Linked DNA regions of Homo sapiens. The protein of the gene in region 5 interacts with the protein of the main gene of each other region in a biochemical or structural test. Each region holds a gene or a part of one and is shown on either strand. Other genes may lie near its edges. The genes, in order: MAPK14, USP5, EIF3M, MAPK8 and METTL3.

Region 1 (3,517 bases), on a different chromosome or scaffold from region 5:
CAGCTTATTTCTCTTAAGTGTGTTTTGACTTACCCCACCTTTGAACAGCCCTTTAGTCAGGTGAAGATCTTAGTAAGCTATTTATTTCTGTAAAAATGAGTATGATTGTTGAGCCTCAGATGTCTTAAATAGTAATTTGAATATTTCACCCCTAGTTACGGTTTCATTTGTTGCCAAGAATTGTAACAGTGACATTGCATATACTTTTACTTCTTTTTAATTTTGCCAGTTGATATTTGGTCAGTGGGATGCATAATGGCCGAGCTGTTGACTGGAAGAACATTGTTTCCTGGTACAGACCGTATCCTTTAAAAAGTTTTGGATTCTTGTTTCTTATCTGTATTCCAGTGTCCATGGGTGTATACTCCTTTTACTTATCTCTAGGGAAGACTCTCAGTATTTTGCTTTTATAGTCTAGATAATGCATTATGAGGTCTTTCTTCAAACTGAGTAGCTTGCCTTGCCAAGAAAGAGGCTTCAGTTTACTTTTGTGAGTTGGAAAAATTCCTCATAAGTTGAAAAACCCATCAAGTCTGTCTTCTTTTTGCAACAGTCCCTTATTAATCATCCCACAGCAGTTCTGAGACCTGAGCATACTCATGAGAAACTCCAGATCCCAGTGACAGTTTTAGTCTTCTTGTATAAACACTTAATGAGCACAAGATGCCCATTTATAAATGAAGGGCATCTTGCTGTTATGTTTATGTATTAAAAGGGCTATGTTTGGTACCTGCAGTGATATACTGCTTACTTGTTATGTTTGTTGTTTGACAACAAATAGTAAAAGCAAGAAGTGAAAAGCTTACCATGTAATGTACTTTTGTTTTTCCAGCACAACTTTTTCCCAGATTGCAGCCAAACCCTAATTTACTCCAAGACTTACTGTCTAGTTTATGGTTTATTATAGCCCCTTTATTTTAGCTCCTTTCCTATCTGCGGTATGCTTGTTTCATGGTTTAGTATTAATGTCATGAAAAATGTGGTCTGTTGGAACTCTCATCAGTTCTACTTATGGAAGATGTTTAGGTGAGAAAGATTGTTAAAATATATGTCTAGAATTAGTTTTGGGGATTTTTTCTTTTTTTAATAGAATTGAGTTAACTAGCCTTCAGGTGGTTTTGGTTAGGCAATATTAGACATGCTACCTCTGATCTATTATGCCTAGAGATCTAAAAGCCATTTTAGTCCCTTACCTAAATAAACTAATTGAGTTTATAAACCAGAATGTCAATTCACTTGCTTACAGTTTGGGATATACTTCTGTAATGGCTATGATGTTCATGATATCTACCCACGTGTTCTAACTATCTTCTGCTAGAGAGAATGTACTTTCATTATGAACTGAAAAAACCTCTATTTCTCAGGTAAAGCTGTTTCTTTCTCTCTGAATATTAGGATTGATAACAGAGTTCAGTCTCCCTGTATTTAGCTTACCTTATTACTCCCTACCTCTGGATTTTAAATTAGTTTAATACCTGGTGTTTCTCCTTTGTCCTTTGTTTCATTCACCTTATATCTGTTTCTCAGAAATTTGGTATATATATATTACAGTCCAAGGTAAGAGAATTAGGGAAAATTCATACTTCCCCCTTTCCTCAGGTACATATCTCAGAGTCCCATCCTTGCTTTGTCCTCTAGAGTAGCTGCTGTCCTGATGCTATTCTCTGTTCCCTGCTCCCCTTCCTCTTCTTGTGTCTGTATCTCCAGCTACCATTTAGTCAGTCACAGACCTCCATGCCGGTGTAGACACACAAGGTGGCAGAGAGGGAAAGGCAGTATAACATACAGGTTAAGCACATGCTCTGGAGCCAGATTTCCTGGATTTAGATCTTAGCTCTTTTATTTCCAGCTATGTAACTTTGAGTAAGTTTCCTAACCTCTATTTCTCTCAGTTTCCTTAACCGTAAAATGATAATAATCATACATACTCACAAGGTTGTCGTAAGAATTCAGCCAGAAAATAACTGGAAAGTACTGAGACGAGCCTGCCAGTAAATGTTAGCCATCATGTTCAGTAATGGCCTTGCAAAACAGATTACCCCTTCACCTTCTCACTTAATTGTCTACCTATGAATCATTAATGTTTTGTTTTGTTTTTAATTCTGTGATAGGTAGGAAAGGATGGAACTCCTTGGCAGACTAGTGTTAGAAAGTTTTCGAAGCAGTGTGAGTCTTGTACCTTTGTGGTCCTGTCTCACAGACACCTGTCTATTCCCTGACCCTTTTAAATGCTAACTTTCTGCCTGTAGGAAATCTTCCCTTTGTGCTTAGGTCTTTTTCTTCTGTGAGCTTTAGATAAACAACCTAGTGTTTAAACTTTTTAATAAGGGATTCATTTTTTAATACATGAGAATTCATTTCAAAATTTTGGTTTTAGTTATTTATTTTATTCTACTTGGCTCTTTTTCAGACAGATGTTCTCTCCTGGATTGTAAAAGTCGAATTCAAAGGATTTTTATTTGTAATATACTTAACCTTTCTCTTGTAAGTTGCCATCTGTGTAGATACAGCTTTGATTGCCTGACAAGAGGAAAATGTTTCCCATTATCTTTTCCTGCCTGAACTATACGGTCACTTGTGTTCCAGCATAGTGGTTCTTAACCCTCATAGTGTGTCAGAATCACTTTGCAGAGCTTTTAAAAACTCTAGATGCCTGGGGACCACCCCAAAGACTCCATTTTGTTGTCATGGGTCAAAGCACAGTCTTCTAGTTTGCAGCTAGTGTTGAGTACAACTAGAGTTTAACCCAGTTGAATTTTAGTTTAATCTTGGCTGGTCTTGAAGATGTTAGTAATCTCTATTCATTTTTTTTGAAAAGTACCAATGAGATCAGAAAGTTAATTAGAAAACATCTAGTTGAATCCCCTGTTTTTAATAGATGGGGAAACCAAGACCCAGAGAATATAATCCAAAGCTACCTGTCACATAGGCCACAATTTCTTTTCCAATATTCTGTTCTTCGCTGTTCTTCTAATTTGCAGAACTCCTCTTTAAAAAACCTTTGGAGAATGTATTGGCCTCATACCCTCTTCCTTCAGCCTGAAAGACATGCACCTGTCACTTATTTATGATATTTAAATGCAACCTCTAGAACAGGGGTGTCCAATCTTCTGGCTTCCCTGGGCCACATTGGAAGAAGAAATGTCCTGGGCCACACATAAAATACACTAATGATAGCCGATGAACTTAAAAAAAATTGCAAAAAAAAAATCTCGTAATGTTTTCAGAAAGTTTACAAATTTGTGATGGGCTGCATCCAAAGCCCTGGGCCACGTGCAGCCCGCAGGCCCTGGGTTGGAAAAGCTTGCTCTAGAAGGTACTCATTGTTTGAGTGTCCAGTTTTCTCCCTGTTTTCCTTATTTATTGATCATTTTGCATTTGGAATTGGTGGTTTGGGCTTGTAAGTAAGAACTGTGTACTAGAACTTTTGTGGTATTGCAAATGTTTTATATCTGTGCTATCCAATGTGGTGGTTATAGGCACCAGCTGCCTGTGGCTAATTATTAAGCAACTGAAA
Region 2 (3,517 bases), on a different chromosome or scaffold from region 5:
AAGAGACCAACCTGGGCAACATAGCAAGACCCACACGTAGGGAAAAAAACATAGCAAGACCCACACATAGAAAAAAAAAAAAAACCCACACAGAGAGGAAGAGCTGTTTCACTGGCAGGAGCAGCAAAGGGCTGGGTAGCTGACTCCCCGAGACCAAAGCCCTTTTTCAGGTCTCACACCCATGCCAGGTGCCAATGGCTAGGCTCAAAGTGTGGCTATTTGCTGGAAATCCAAATTCTGCCCACAGCTGATCCTAAGTGCCTGTGCTCAGCCATGACTGAGGGGCAATGAAGAGAGGCTACACTACAAAGAGACCCTGTGCCACAGAAGAGGGAGTGGTTGGGGCAGGACAAGGTGACAGATAGAGTCAGTACCCGTGTCCCCCCTACCAGGGCCCCTTGGTTCCATCAGGGCCAGATTACCAGCCCAACTGATTCAACCCTGAGGTTCCAACCACAAAGGGATGAAAGAACAGGGAAGAGACAGAAGTATCCTCTGGGATAGCTCTGCCATAGACCCACAGCCTCAGGCCCCGACCAGAGGACTTACTTGACAGCTACTGACTTGGCCTGCAGGGCCGTGCTCCAGAAGTCATCGACCTGCTCAGGGGCCCCGTAGGCCTCCAGGCAAGAGCTGAAGGGCACCTGGGCCCGAACCAGTTCTGGCAGTGCCATCTTCTCCTCTTCGGCTTGCCGCTTCTTCTCCTCGTACTCCAGAAGCTCCTCTGGTGACAGAATGGGTTGGTGGATCCTTCGGAGGGTGCTGCTTCTTTGCCTCCTTAGCCTCTCCCTACTGGCTCTGTGTCCGTATTTCAGTTCCTCTACCCTTCCAAAGCACCCCTGACACATGTCCAATATATCTCGCCTGTTTCCATGCAGCTCTGCTAACAAGCTGAGTGTCCACTGGACGAGGTTAATCTACCTACTCCTGGTGGCCCAGACTGGAACCTTGGCTGGTGAAGCAGGGCATTCCCTGGGCTGTGCTCCCATGAGGTGCCCAAGCATTCCTCCTAGACCTTAGCCTCCCACCGTGCCACGGCCTTGCTGATGGAGCAGCCTACCTTTGTTAAGGGCTGCATCCATGGGCACAGGCAGCTGCATGATGTAGTCAACTCGCTGGGTGTACTTCACCTTCTCTGTGGCCAGGCACTTGATCTTTTCCTCCACCAAGAAGCGGAACACTTCATTAGGATTTTCAGAGCTCCGGCAATTCCTCTATGGGAAAGAGGCAGGGTAGGGAGGTCTGGGCAGCCAGGGAACAGAATGGGGCCTGAAAGGTTCATGGGAGAGTCAGGGAGAGAAGGCAGACTACCACTCGGAACTCAGGGACACAAGAGCAGAGCAGAAACCTTCCCTAATTCACCAACCCCTCCCCATTTCTGGCCCCATCCCTGCACTGAGGGACTGTGTTAGAACACGCTTGTATTTTTCTTTATAAGCAGCAAGTATTCTCTTATCATTGTCTTTGGGCATAATCTGAATTGGGCTTCAAGCCCATCAAGGGTAGGGATCATCACCTTCACTGTCCTCCTCAGGTGCAAGCACTGTTCACAGGGACACAGACTGTTGGGGTTCAGGGATGGGACTGGGTTGGGGCTGATAGAGGGAGAAATGGGCAGGAAGGAGAGCGAGTAAATTGCAGGAAGATGGGGGTGTGCCATCTTGCCAGCCCTTACCTCCACCATGTTGATAAGGTGAAGGAAGAACTCCTGGGCATCCTGCTGCCGGTTGGTGGAGAATTCAGGGTGGCCCTTGCCGATGAGGGCCTTGAACATCCGAGGGGCAATGCCATCTTGAACTTCCTGGGAAGAGTCAGGGCAGGGACTCAGCTGGGGCTCAGTGGCCATCCAGGGGCCTTCTTTAGACATCTCCCAGACCTCAGCTTCCCCACAATCCCAGGGCCTGAAAGGGACAGGGTCCTAGACGCACCTTCTGTTCTGGCACCCGCTCCCCATCGCCCGACTCCGGTACTGGCTTGGAATACTCCCCGGAGAGAAGGCCATGGCCCAGCTTGGCCCTGCATTAATATCCAAGAAAACATTTCACTTCAGTCAACTAACGACCCTGTGTGTCCCCAGCTCAACCCCCTGCTCGTGGCTCTCCCTAGCTAACTCTCAACAACGTGAAAAACCTTAGATTCTACAGGAACCCAGCTCAAGACAGACAACACGTCCAGAAGACAGTCACCCGAATGCTCCTAATAGGCCAGTGGTGGCCGTGCACGGTGGCTCACGCCTGTAATCCCAGCACTTTGGGAGGCCGAGGTGGGCAGACCACGAGGTCAGGAGATCGAGACCATCCTGGCCAACATGATGAAACCCCGTCTCTACTAAAAATACAAAAAAAATTTAGCTGGGCGTGGTGGCATGTGCCTGTAGTCCTAGCTACTCAGGAGACTGAGGCAGGAGAATCACTTGAACCCAGGAGGCAGAGGTTGTAGTGAGCCGAGATCGCGCCACTGCACTCCAGCCTGGCAACAGAACAAGACTCCGTCTCAAAAAACAAAACAAAACAAAACAAAAAAAGGCCAGGGGTTAAAGTGCTGTGCCCCCCAGGCGGTCAGGGAGGAGGAAGGTATACGGCCATGACTGTCAACAGCTTTCCTACATAGGACCTGGTTACATACACCTGGGTGCTGAAATCCTGGGTAGGGTCCGTCGGGGCATTCTGGAAGATCTTCTCCAGCTTATCCACATACCTAAAAGTCAAGGGAAGGACAGTTGGAGGGGCTCTGGCCTGAGCGCCGAGGAAAAGGGAAGGAAGCAAACATTTACTAACTCTGTGAACGGGCTCCCCTCAAGAGTGGGGAGTTGCTGTGGGTGAACCTTGGAGTCGCTTCTCTCCAGCAACCTGCCTGTTCTCCCCTTCTCAGCTATGTCCAATGTGCAAGCACGCTCGGCGGCAGAGGAGCCGGGGAGGGGGAAGGTAGCCTGGGATTAGGATAAGTGCAGTTCACGTTCTATTGGACAGAACCTGTTGACATGTTCTGAGCATTCACATTCTAATTGTTCCCCAAATTCGAAAGTAAACTCATTTCTGCTGAGAACCTGCCTTTATTCTTAGTGTGCCAAGCCCCCCTCCTCCCCAAGTGCTACATGTCCATGTTAGGTGCTCATCTGATGTCACTGCCCTAAAATAAAGACCACCTGCTAACCCTTGAGTCTGTCAGAAGGCCACAGAGCCCTGGGACTTGGCACTCTGCACTATCAGTGGGGTTTGTGTGTTGGGGTGCTGGTGGTGCAGCTCCCTAACTTGCTCCCCTCACAGCATGTCAGCCAGAGTGTGACAGGAATTATTCTTTTTTTTTTTTAAGAGAAGACAGGGTCTCGCTATGTTGCCCAGGCTGGTCTCAACCTCCTGGGCTCAAGCAATTCTCCCATCTTGGCCTCCCGAAGTACTGGGATTACGGGTGTGGGCCAACACACCCAGCCGATAGGAACTACTCTAAGACTAGAATCAAACACAGAGGTGCTGAGGGAAGCTGAAGGAGGAGTATGCCCAGAGGGTGCTGACCAGGA
Region 3 (3,517 bases), on a different chromosome or scaffold from region 5:
GGGAAAAAACTATTTGTTACCATTCTGTGGCTATGGCTTAAAAAAAGGGACCAAAAATACAAATCACCATATATCTAAGGAATAAAGTCTTCTACAAAGAAACAATATTATTTTAAGAATAATGTTTAGCTTAATAAAGTACCTTTAATCATCAAATTTTATCAGCTCTTAAAACATTTCTGAAAGTTACCATTATGATCAAAGTAATGGTAATTCTTTCAGTTGCTTTTCTGCTCACTCCTCCATCTCTAAATTTTAAAAACAAATGTACCAATGGAACTATTTCTTCAATCTTCTCCAAACACCCGATTGTTGATATAACTTTACCTCAAAGAATCATGGTACAGAAGAGCTGGAAGGGCCTAAAGTTCAGCAAGCTCTTAAATGAGACAAAAAGGTTCCAAGTCATTTTCTCTCTCTTTTTTTTTTGTTTTTTGAGATGGAGCCTCACTCTGTCATCCAGGCTGGAGTGCAGCAGTGTGATCTGAACTCACTGCAACCTCTGCCTCCCGGGTTCAAGTGGTTCTCTTGCCTAAGGCTCCTGAGTAGTTGGCACTACAGGTATGTGCCACCATGCCCACTAATTTTTGTATTTTTAGTAGAAATGGGGTTTTGCCATGTTGGCCAGGCTGGTCTTGAACTCCTGACCTCAAGTGATCCACCCACCTCATCCTCCCAAAGTGCTGGGATTACAAGTGCTAAGTTGTTTTCTTTTCTTTCTTTTTTTTTTTTTTTTTTTTGAGACAGACTCTTGCTCTGTTGCCGAGGCTGGAGTGCAGTGGCACAGTCTTGGCTCACTGCAACCTCCGCCTCCATCTCCCGGGTTCAAGCTATTCTCCTGCCTCAGCCTCTCAAGTAGCTGGGACTACGGGCACCCGCCACCGCGCCCGGCTAATTTTTTGTATTTTTAGTAGAGACAGGGTTTCACCATGTTAGTCAGCCAAGATGGTCTCGACCTCCTGACCTCGTGATCCGCCCGCCTCGGCCTCCAAAGTGCTGGGATTATACCTCTAAGCCACCGCGCTGGGCCCCGAGTTGTTTTCATACTCCCAGTTTCATTCTCTTTCTATCACAAATGCCACCTCCTACACCTTCTTGGTTTCTGATTCTCAATTCATTCTAAGTAATATTTTAAACTGTCTACCTATTTTTGTGCTGTTCTATCATACACGACTCCTTTTAGGATAATCTACAAATAAGGCCACAGCCATACTTGCTGGAACACATAGTACATAACTGTTAGTGTATCATGTTCCCACCTCTGTGCCTCAAAGAATAAACCCCAAAACTTACCAAGTGAATCAATGAAGTCTTTATTATTCTGATAAAACTTGACATATGATGCCAATTTAGCACTCACAAAAATGGTTAAAAGCTATACAGATAAGAGACAAAAAAGATACCATCAATACAGAATTCAGATTTATTGTAAGATATTCTAAGATATTGTAAATATTATTTTAAAGATACTGACTCCTACATTTTGTTCAAGGCAGAAATATCATTCTGTTTCATCAAATTACCAAACCATCTGCTTTCACATGGCTCACTTTTAAAATGAAATAATCAGTAAATACACTGAGCTCTAAATTATCCACACTGAAAGATGATGGCTAATGGCATAGTCCAGATGCACAACAGTCCAAAATATATTTATACTTGCATTTGAAAAATGTTCATGTGTTTTTAAATATCAGACTTATATTCCTAAGTGGGGCTAGGAACAATATATATGTAATAAAAAAGAAACTTGTATTATCTAAGTCTATAATGATGAGTAAGTGAGAAGATGAAAGAAAGGGAGGTAGCCGGGCACAGTGGCTCACGCCTGTAATCCCAGCACTCTGGGAGGCCGAAGTGGGCAGATCATTTGGGGTCAGGGGGGTCAGGAGTCGGAGACCAGACCAACATGGCAAAACTCTGTATCTACTAAAAATACAAAAATTAGCTGGGCCTGATGGCATGTGCCTGTAATCCCAGCTACTTCTCCTGGAAGCTGAGGCAGGAGAATTGCTTAAATCAGGGAGGCAGAGGTTGCAGTGAGCCAAGATCATGCCACCGCACTCCAGCCTGGTGACAGAGTGAGACTCAGTCTCAAAAAAAAAAAAGAAATTAAGAAAGGGAGGAAGAATAGGACTCTGCTCAGTGGATGAAGAAAAGCTGGTCCTAAATATGTCTGTTCCTGATATAAAAAGAATACATAGTTCTTAATCTTTCCATATCTTGCCATTAGTCACTTTTATTAATGCAAAGAAAAAGAGTCCTGCTTCAGTATGTAAAATTTAGGAAAGGAGAACATTTTTCACATTAAAGGATAAACTACTTACATCATGAATAAGCTCGCCTTCCAAAAACTTGACTGGTTTTAAAGTAAGAAGGTGGTCAAAAAGAAATGCATTTGGATCTTTCAATGCTCGTACAATACACCTTAATTAGAGAACAAAAATGTAAGCTCAGGGTTTTGAAATCCTGGCTTTTCATTGAGTTTTTGCAGATCATAAAATATACTTAATTCGGCAAAATATCTAACAGTCCAAAACATATAAACAACATTAAAAAAGCTACAGGATTGGGTTAAGACAGGCCAACACATTTATCAGGTTCATCTGTTTTAACAAAATGAAATATATTAATTGTAGATAAAAACATAGCTGGAGAGAAAGCACCAAGGTAATCAAATAGTAAGCAGCAGCAGAACCACATGCCAAGACACTAAGTGCTTCACTTGCCTTACATCTCATTTATTCCTCACAACAACCTAGGAGACAAACAGTATTACTCTGCCCCCTTTATCAACTATGAAGCAGTTCAGAAGTGCTCATTAAGAGGTGGAGTAAGAATGTGAATGGAGGCAGCCTGACCTCAAAGTCAAGGATCTTTACCACCAACTTCCCTTTTTACCAACTCCTATCATGTAGAGGTCCACACAAAGCAATGACCAAAAAAAGAAGTTTCATAATCCTTATTACATAGATTTAGAAAACTGATTCTATTCTTGTTACCAGTTAGATCTAAGACTGTTAAAAGCCCTTATACTCATTAGCAATGGGTTAATTTTTGGCAAGCCATCAACTTTCCACCTATAACCTTAAAATTAGGGTCAATTGGCCCAAGATTAGGTTCTAATTCTTGGGTTGGGATCATCATCCCCATACCAGCAATACCCCCCCCGCCAGGTAAACGCCATGCAGCTACTTCATATTCAATCCACAGTTCTTCCAATATCAAACCTTGAATTTTAGTATCTACATTAGAATCACCAGGAAATACACACTATCAAATGGCTCTGGATCACTGGTAGTTGCAAACATGATTTCAGTTACTTAATTTAATATTGTAGCTTACCTCTACATCGCTGTCAAACCCTCATCAGAGTAACGTTTAACATTACCTGTGGGCATCAACTCGAGCCTGGGAAGCATTGTCCTCTGTGTAACTTCCGAGCAATTCCACCATGACTTTTGAAGCAGCATCACTAAAAAGAAATATTGCTTTAGGAACTTGAAAGCATTACTGC
Region 4 (4,201 bases), on a different chromosome or scaffold from region 5:
GACAGCACGGTACAAAGGTCATTTGGAGCAGGAACTGTGCAAGACGGAGTGGCGTCATTACAGTGGCTGGGAAGGTACTGCAGGGACCCTGTATTCCCACACAGCAGCAGACCCAACGTAGGCAAAGAGGAAATAAGCATGGCAAAAGTTGGAAACAGTCAAAGCTAAAACCTCTTGCTTGTTTTGAAACAGACCCCAATTTTAAGTACTTATTTTTGCCAAGTGGTCACGATGGCTGTTCTCTCATATGTCTACCAAGAACTAGGTTAAGGGCATTGAAGCAAAGTTCCTTTTTTAGATAAAGTTTATCCAGCAATTTCAAACACCAGAAATCCAAGACCAGATCAACCAGATAATCAGCGTGATCATTTAGGCTCTTTACAATCTGTACAAAATCCAAATCTAAGAAACCGGCCCTAGCAAGACCCCTTTTATCCCAATCCACGGACAATCCTAAAATTGCCAAGAAAAACTTTACCACAAACAGATTTTGTTTTCAATGAAAAAACTCTTAATTTCATAATTTTCATACCACTTTTTTCTTTTTTATTTAAAATATTATAACCAATTGACATACTAGATAACATTGTTTACATTCCAGTGGTGCATGTTTAATGACTAGGGCATGAATGATGAAAAACCACAATAATGATCTCAGCATTCCCTAAAAAGTGCCCCATTTTGTTTTGTCTAGAGGAAAGGAGAGGGAACGGAACACAGGGAAGGAGAGGAATGGAGGAGGAATGACATCGCAGAGGGAGAAAAGCAAATGTCAGCTATCATACTCAGGTTTCCAGGTGTGACACCCTGCTGACCAGGATAAACTGTAATGAGAAAATAGATGTCACAGTCCAGGGAGACACGTAATTCAGTCTAACTTCATTATTCAGCTAAAAGATTAACAGCTTCTCAAAAATATACCAAATATTGGGCCTACAAAAGTAATTTATTTCTTCGTAAAATTTTTACTAAGATTTACTCCTTTTGTAAAATGTAAATGGACCGATATCACGAGCAGGTTTCTACTTACAAAAACAGTAATAATGTCAACGAGCACAATTTTGCAAGACATACAGTCAAAGATTTTACACGTGTCTCTTACTGATGTAAGGTATATACTTTACATACTTACTGGTATTGTGTCAACATTGGCTAGAAAGTATTTAACACACATTTATAATTCACTCAGTAAAGATCTAACAGGGCAACAGCTTACTTGGGAAAGCATAGAAAATTAGTGTGAGGTAGTTCAATAAAAACCTAGTTTAATTTGTAAGTCATTATGAGAATAGAACATTGTGCAAAATTAATCCACAGGTAATATTTCTCAAAAGTTTCAGTAACGAAGAGAATCTAAACTAGAAATGGCCAGAAAGTGTTACTGTTACTAGACTCTCCTTAAGAGCACTTAACGAAGAGCAGTCAGTTTGAAATTAGGACTTCTGTTTTCCTTACGAGTTTTCTAATCGTACCCCAAACTATACATTTCTGCTTCAATGCCCTTTACCTCTTCATCTTTCTTGCTATTAAGGAAAAATTAGTTTCCTTTGATTCCGTAAAAACCTAAGAGAGATCAGTAGAAACACAATGCACACAAAAATGCAACAGGATACGGAGAGGCAACATTTAAGAGGGCTGCTAATGACAGAATGGTGTTTGGTTTACCTACTGGTAAGAGAAGTTTACTGGTGTCATGGGGCTTCATGCATCCACTCTATAGCTAATGTGTAACTAATGAACAACACTCACAAACTACAACAGTATTTCTGAAAATATTCTATGTTCTAACCTCAAAATGTTGTGCAGGCGAATGCCTAGGCAACACTGAATAGTTAAGTCTTCATATGTTTAGCAGATACTGGCCAATAGTGTAAACCAAGTCTTATCTGTAACCAAGGAAAGAGCTTCACTTTCCTGCTGATGATTTCACTATCAGACACTGATGTCCTCTTCCCTCCATCTTTTAGACAACACAGCAGGATTAGCATAGAACAGAACAATGACAAGGCTGGCAGGATGCTTCTTTGCACACCATCAAGCTTCTTTGGATTGTTAAGGGGGTTGTGTGTAGGCTTCTGATTTAAGAGGCTGGTGTTTCTCTTAGAAGTCTGGCATGAACACACTGTGCCTTTACCAACTCGGAAGAGTGCACGTCAGGAACAATTAGCAGCCAAAGGTGCATGACACTGAAAACTGTTCAGCAAACACTATGACAGAGTTGAGATGCTCTATCTGCGTATAGTATAACTAAGTGATCCCAACAACACAATGGTTTTACAAATGGCCAGTATATATTAGAGGGAAGAGAATAGTAACCAGGAAGACATTGGTACAGAATTAGCATCTCTTTCTGAATCTATGAAGATAATAAAAATCTTGGTCAAAATAACTTTCTGATAGTAAGACAGTGAGTATATTAAGTATATAAAATTGAAAAATCAAAATTATAGAATAAGAAAGGTGGTTTCATACAAGTACTACCTGATAGAAATGTTATTTGTAACTTCTCTTCAAAAAAAAAATGTTTAAGATGCTTAAAGGATTCCAAAATAAAAAGAACCAACATATATTTAGCTTAACAAATTTAAGACGAAAACTGTATTTGGATGTAGTAATTTAAAACCTAGGGCATGCAACATTTAACAAAGAGACCTTGTTTTTAGGATATAATTTGTTAAGTATTTTAGTTTACACTAAGTAATGAGAGTTTGTTTTCTTTGAATTGAACTGAACATGATGGTTGGCAAGTGGCAGCTGGCATTTACAATAAATGATACAGACACACACCTGGTTTTCCTTACTTAACCAAAATCTGTATCAATAGAGATGGCTTATCAGCAATCAAACATAAAATATGAGAACCTTCTGAAAGCATGTCTGCTGTGAAAGTGCAACAGTGACATAATCTATGCTACAGAAAATACAGCTAATTGTGAAATTAATATAAACACACTCATTCTCAAATTTCTGCTGAAATTGTGAATCCAATATTTTCTGTCTACAATTCAAGAAGTGTCTTAGAACTCTAATTTGCCTAATCAAATTAATGCACCTTGTTGTATTAGAAAAGGGACTGATAAAAAGGCTGGGAAGCTGGAAATCATGACTCTAAGCCATCGAAAACAAACTTGCTACTTCAAAGTATATAAAAAAGCTAATGTATTTTAATCTTAAATATTGCACATTAACAGTGATGTAAAATATCTCACTCAAAAATAATTTTGCACTAAATATATGAATAAAATGCCAAGCAAATTTTCAGACATTGCATGTTGAGCCGCACCTGTTCTTGCTCCTGTTGGTCACAAATTCCAAGGGGCTTTCTGCCTAGAACCTTGTTGCTTATGTGAGTATGCATTTCCTAGTTCATTACATGAAATCCCTCTTGTTCCAGAGATAATTTAAAAGGTGCCTGGGTCTATTACAGACAACGTATTTCAGAAATAACGAGACTTCAAAGACATTTTACTTAGGAAAAGTTCAGTAATAGAGAAATAATTCTACAGATAGAAAATGTAAACAGTTAACATACACTTGTCAGGAGCAGCACCATTCTTAACACTACTCGACATCCACATTGCGTGTTATGTTGAAAATCAGGTATAAAAAAATAAAAGACTTAGACTAAATAACCACCATTTATGCCTGCTCTGCTCAATGTGAAGAAACAGTCCTTAGAAAATGATATCCTATATATGGCTGTGTGCTACTATTTTCAGATGAACGGTATATTGCTCATTTGATACATCACCTACACAAATCTAGGTAGGGTTTGGAACCTCCCAATAGCTCGTATAAATGATTATGCTACAAGTAGAATCAAATGAAACACCAGAACAACTGGTGCTCAACTGACAGACACTCCAAGTAATAGGAAACAGGAAAGGTCCAAGGACCCGAAGCTGCAGGAAAGGGAAAGACCAGACTCTAGAACATTGCTGGGACCTACAGCCTGAGTAGATTAACTCAGTGTATACAAAAACAGGCTCATAGCTAGTAGAAGTGAACCATCTGTTTATTTGCATTGAAATGTATTATTCATGAAGTATCCTCTTGCCTTTATGTGATCATAAACTTTGAGCATGCCACAAATTTGTAGAATACACCATATTCTTTTTACTTATTTTTGTTGGGTAGGGTGGGGACATAAGGTGGTGGTAGACGCCCAGCATCTTCAAAGACATGCTCTGAGTTATTCTGC
Region 5 (3,517 bases):
TCCTTCAGCCTCCCCAGTAGCTGGGATTATAACCTTGCATCACCACCCCCAGCTAAATTTTTTTTTTTTTTGTATTTTAGTAGAGATGGGGTTTCACCATGTTGGCCAGGCTGGTCTCGAACTCCTCACCTCAAGTGATCCACCCACCTTGGCCTCCCAGAGTGCTGGGATTACAGGCGTGAGCCCCAGTGCCTTACCAGAATGGAAATATTTAAGTAAACAAAATATTTCTAAATGTAAACTAATGGCCTACTTATTTAGCAATTTCAGTTCAGTTCTTAGGAGTTTAATATTTCATCTATATTTTAATTAACCACAGATATTAGGCTTTCTCAAAGATAACATTTTGTCCTAATTTTAGTTTCTCAAATCGTTATTAAGGTTATGATGGCAACCCAGCTTGTGAAGTAATAGATGATAATAATATAGTCAGGAAATATCATTTGGTAACCAAGGCTTCAGCAAAGTATTAAGATTTTTGTGTTTGTGAGTGTTATAGGTAACACTGTTGGCCCCCAACATTGTCATTTTGTACACTTTGTTGATCAGTGGCCTGAATTCATTAAAATTCACACTACATGCCTCAAAAAGAATATTGGATCCCAGCCTAGGTTGTTGAGTATATTCCTGTCCTTTATTAAAATGTAGGTTGATAGAAAGGTGGTAGGGATATTTAAATCTATCATGCTAATTTACTTTCTTTGTATCACAGCAAGGATAGGGAATTAGGAAAAGATTACTCACTCAATAGAGAAAAGGTAGATAGAAAATCCAGTATTATCTTGACAAAGCAGTGAATGTTTTAGTATGATTGAGGATAGGTAATCTAGTGCTAAAGTTGGTCACAGAATTTCCTGCACAAAATGAAAGATCTGTGTATGGGAATGCTAGAGAATTTGACTTCTCAGAAATATATAGACCAACAGTGGTTGCCTTTTTTCATTTTCACTTCTCTTCATTCTTAGATCTACGGAATCCAGAGGCAGCATTGTCTCCAACCTTCCGTAGTGACAGCCCAGTGCCTACTGCACCCACCTCTGGTGGCCCTAAGCCCAGCACAGCTTCAGCAGTTCCTGAATTAGCTACAGATCCTGAGTTAGAGAAGAAGTTGCTACACCACCTCTCTGATCTGGCCTTAACATTGCCCACTGATGCTGTGTCCATCTGTCTTGCCATCTCCACGGTAATGACCTGACAGAGTTAGGATTTACCACTTATTTTCAGTTCACGGTCAGTGTCTTATTGCCCATACCTCCCCTCGTTCTCTAGCCAGATGCTCCTGCCACTCAAGATGGGGTAGAAAGCCTCCTGCAGAAGTTTGCAGCTCAGGAGTTGATTGAGGTAAAGCGAGGTCTCCTACAAGATGATGCACATCCTACTCTTGTAACCTATGCTGACCATTCCAAGCTCTCTGCCATGATGGGTGCTGTGGCAGAAAAGAAGGGCCCTGGGGAGGTAGCAGGGACTGTCACAGGGCAGAAGCGGCGTGCAGAACAGGACTCGACTACAGTAGCTGCCTTTGCCAGTTCGTTAGTCTCTGGTCTGAACTCTTCAGCATCGGAACCAGCAAAGGAGCCAGCCAAGAAATCAAGGAAACATGCTGCCTCAGATGTTGATCTGGAGATAGAGAGCCTTCTGAACCAACAGTCCACTAAGGAACAACAGAGCAAGAAGGTAGGGGTCATGTGAAAATACTCTCACAATATGCTCTTAATTATAGCTTTGTTTGACAGGGATTTACCCCTAGGGCAAGGAACTGTTTACAGCAGTGGTTCTCAACTGGGGATGATTCCCTACTGCCCAACTCCCAGGGGATCTGGTAATGTCCGGAGACATTTTTATTGTCACACATGGGGGAGTGCTATTGGCATCTAGTGGGGGTAGAGGCCAGGGATGTTGTCAAACATCCTACAGTGCATAGTGGGACAAACCCCCACAACAAACAGTTGTCTGTCCCAAAGTGTCAACAATGCCAATGTCGACAAATTCTTATTTAGATAATCTGTCACTGAATCTGAAAGAATTGGATCAAGAGAAGAGGAATCCAAATATATAGAAATATAGGGAGATGAATGGAGAGGAATACTAGACCAATTATGGAAATTGACTAAATAATGTGAATTGGTTCTGAGTATAAGCATTGGCCTGACATGAGTTCTTATCTGTTTGGTACTTCTAGTGCGTGAGTTTGAACAAGTTAATTAACTTCTCTTGAGCCTTAGTCTTCTCATCTGTAACATGAAGATAATACCAGCGTATCCTGCCTTATAGAATTGAATAGACTCTGAGCTAAAAAGTAAAGTGTTTAGCACTATACTTTTTAGTTCAGCACCCAGTAAATATGTTTTTTGTAGAAGGAATGCCTTCCTGGGGAGGGGATGTTAACATAATGCTTAGCGGTAGGAACCAGGCCTCTTCCATTTTAATTTCATCCCAAATGCATATTTGTGAGGAAGGACTGAACCCCTAACAAATCTCTTATCTGAAGGCTCCAATTTTCCAATATTAAGTTAGCTAATTTAGGTCTAGGCACAATGGCTCATTCCTGTAATCTCAACACTTTGGGAGGCCAAGGCGCGAGGATCACCTGAGGCGAGGAGTTCAAGACCGGCCTGGGCAACATAGACCCTATCCCTATAGAAAGTAAAGTAATTAAAACATTAGCTGGCATGGTGTCACGCACCTATATTCCCAGCTACAATTGAAGGCTGAGCTGGGAGGATCACTTGAGCCTGGGAGTTCAGTGGGAGAAACAGTGAGTTATGATTACACAACTACACTCTGGCCTGGGTGACAGCAAGATCCCATCTCTTAAAAAAAAAAAAAAAAAAAAAGTTGATTTATCTCTTAGAAGACATTAATGTCAAAAAGAATTTGCGGAGTTGGTCTAAGAGCCAATTTGATCTATAAGACATTTTAAGTCCAAGGCTACTTCTGTCACAGGTCAGTCAGGAGATCCTAGAGCTATTAAATACTACAACAGCCAAGGAACAATCCATTGTTGAAAAATTTCGCTCTCGAGGTCGGGCCCAAGTGCAAGAATTCTGTGACTATGGAACCAAGGAGGAGTGCATGAAAGCCAGTGATGCTGATCGACCCTGTCGCAAGCTGCACTTCAGGTCTCTTGGAAGGGAATGAGGTGGGATGGGTTTGTCAGAAGCAGCCATTCCTTTTCAGCATATTCCTTCCAGTCATTGGGGTTCTGTCTGTAATCTTATTTAGTTTATGGTTTGTGTAAGTCCTCCAGACCCTGAAGGTGTACTTTCAGAAGTGCATTGTGTGGGAAGAATACAGGCTGTACTCCCAAATAACTGAGATTTTTTTTTTAAAAGCTCCCTCCCTCTTAGAATAGCAAAGTATGTCTGTCTCTGAGCCACAGTGAAAGTTAAAGTACTCTGAAAGGAGGATAATCTTAGGAGAAAAGGAACCTAAACTCTTAGGTCAGTGTTTTATTCTGTTCTACCCAAGTCTCCTGCACTGCTTGCCTTCCAGTGGTAAAACAGGAAACCAAGTCTTT

The links.
Region 1: of the proteins of METTL3 (region 5) and MAPK14, one has a biochemical effect on the other in vitro, tested with the Homo sapiens proteins (one study listed by BioGRID).
Region 2: of the proteins of METTL3 (region 5) and USP5, one has a biochemical effect on the other in vitro, tested with the Homo sapiens proteins (one study listed by BioGRID).
Region 3: the proteins of METTL3 (region 5) and EIF3M form a complex in vitro, tested with the Homo sapiens proteins (one study listed by BioGRID).
Region 4: of the proteins of METTL3 (region 5) and MAPK8, one has a biochemical effect on the other in vitro, tested with the Homo sapiens proteins (one study listed by BioGRID).

The regions. Positions count from the first base shown.
Region 1 is NC_000006.12:36,076,308-36,079,824, forward strand, and holds part of MAPK14 (mitogen-activated protein kinase 14), read left to right. Parts: intron 1-229; coding exon 230-301; intron 302-1,527; exon of another isoform or gene 1,528-1,557; intron 1,558-3,517. UniProt on the Homo sapiens protein: Serine/threonine kinase which acts as an essential component of the MAP kinase signal transduction pathway.
Region 2 is NC_000012.12:6,858,650-6,862,166, reverse strand, and holds part of USP5 (ubiquitin carboxyl-terminal hydrolase 5), read right to left. Parts: intron 2,698-3,517; coding exon 2,626-2,697; intron 2,017-2,625; coding exon 1,929-2,016; intron 1,802-1,928; coding exon 1,676-1,801; intron 1,215-1,675; coding exon 1,061-1,214; intron 725-1,060; coding exon 550-724; intron 1-549. UniProt on the Homo sapiens protein: Deubiquitinating enzyme that participates in a wide range of cellular processes by specifically cleaving isopeptide bonds between ubiquitin and substrate proteins or ubiquitin itself.
Region 3 is NC_000011.10:32,593,824-32,597,340, reverse strand, and holds part of EIF3M (eukaryotic translation initiation factor 3 subunit M), read right to left. Parts: intron 3,476-3,517; coding exon 3,392-3,475; intron 2,428-3,391; coding exon 2,328-2,427; intron 1,376-2,327; coding exon 1,294-1,375; intron 1-1,293. UniProt on the Homo sapiens protein: Component of the eukaryotic translation initiation factor 3 (eIF-3) complex, which is required for several steps in the initiation of protein synthesis.
Region 4 is NC_000010.11:48,435,675-48,439,875, reverse strand, and holds the end of MAPK8 (mitogen-activated protein kinase 8), read right to left. Parts: 3' UTR 516-4,201; downstream 1-515. UniProt on the Homo sapiens protein: Serine/threonine-protein kinase involved in various processes such as cell proliferation, differentiation, migration, transformation and programmed cell death.
Region 5 is NC_000014.9:21,501,330-21,504,846, reverse strand, and holds part of METTL3 (N(6)-adenosine-methyltransferase catalytic subunit METTL3), read left to right. Parts: intron 1-965; coding exon 966-1,183; intron 1,184-1,269; coding exon 1,270-1,674; intron 1,675-2,943; coding exon 2,944-3,119; coding exon of another isoform or gene 3,120-3,138; exon of another isoform or gene 3,139-3,139; intron 3,140-3,517. UniProt on the Homo sapiens protein: The METTL3-METTL14 heterodimer forms a N6-methyltransferase complex that methylates adenosine residues at the N(6) position of some RNAs and regulates various processes such as the circadian clock, differentiation of embryonic and hematopoietic stem cells, cortical neurogenesis, response to DNA damage, differentiation of T-cells and primary miRNA processing.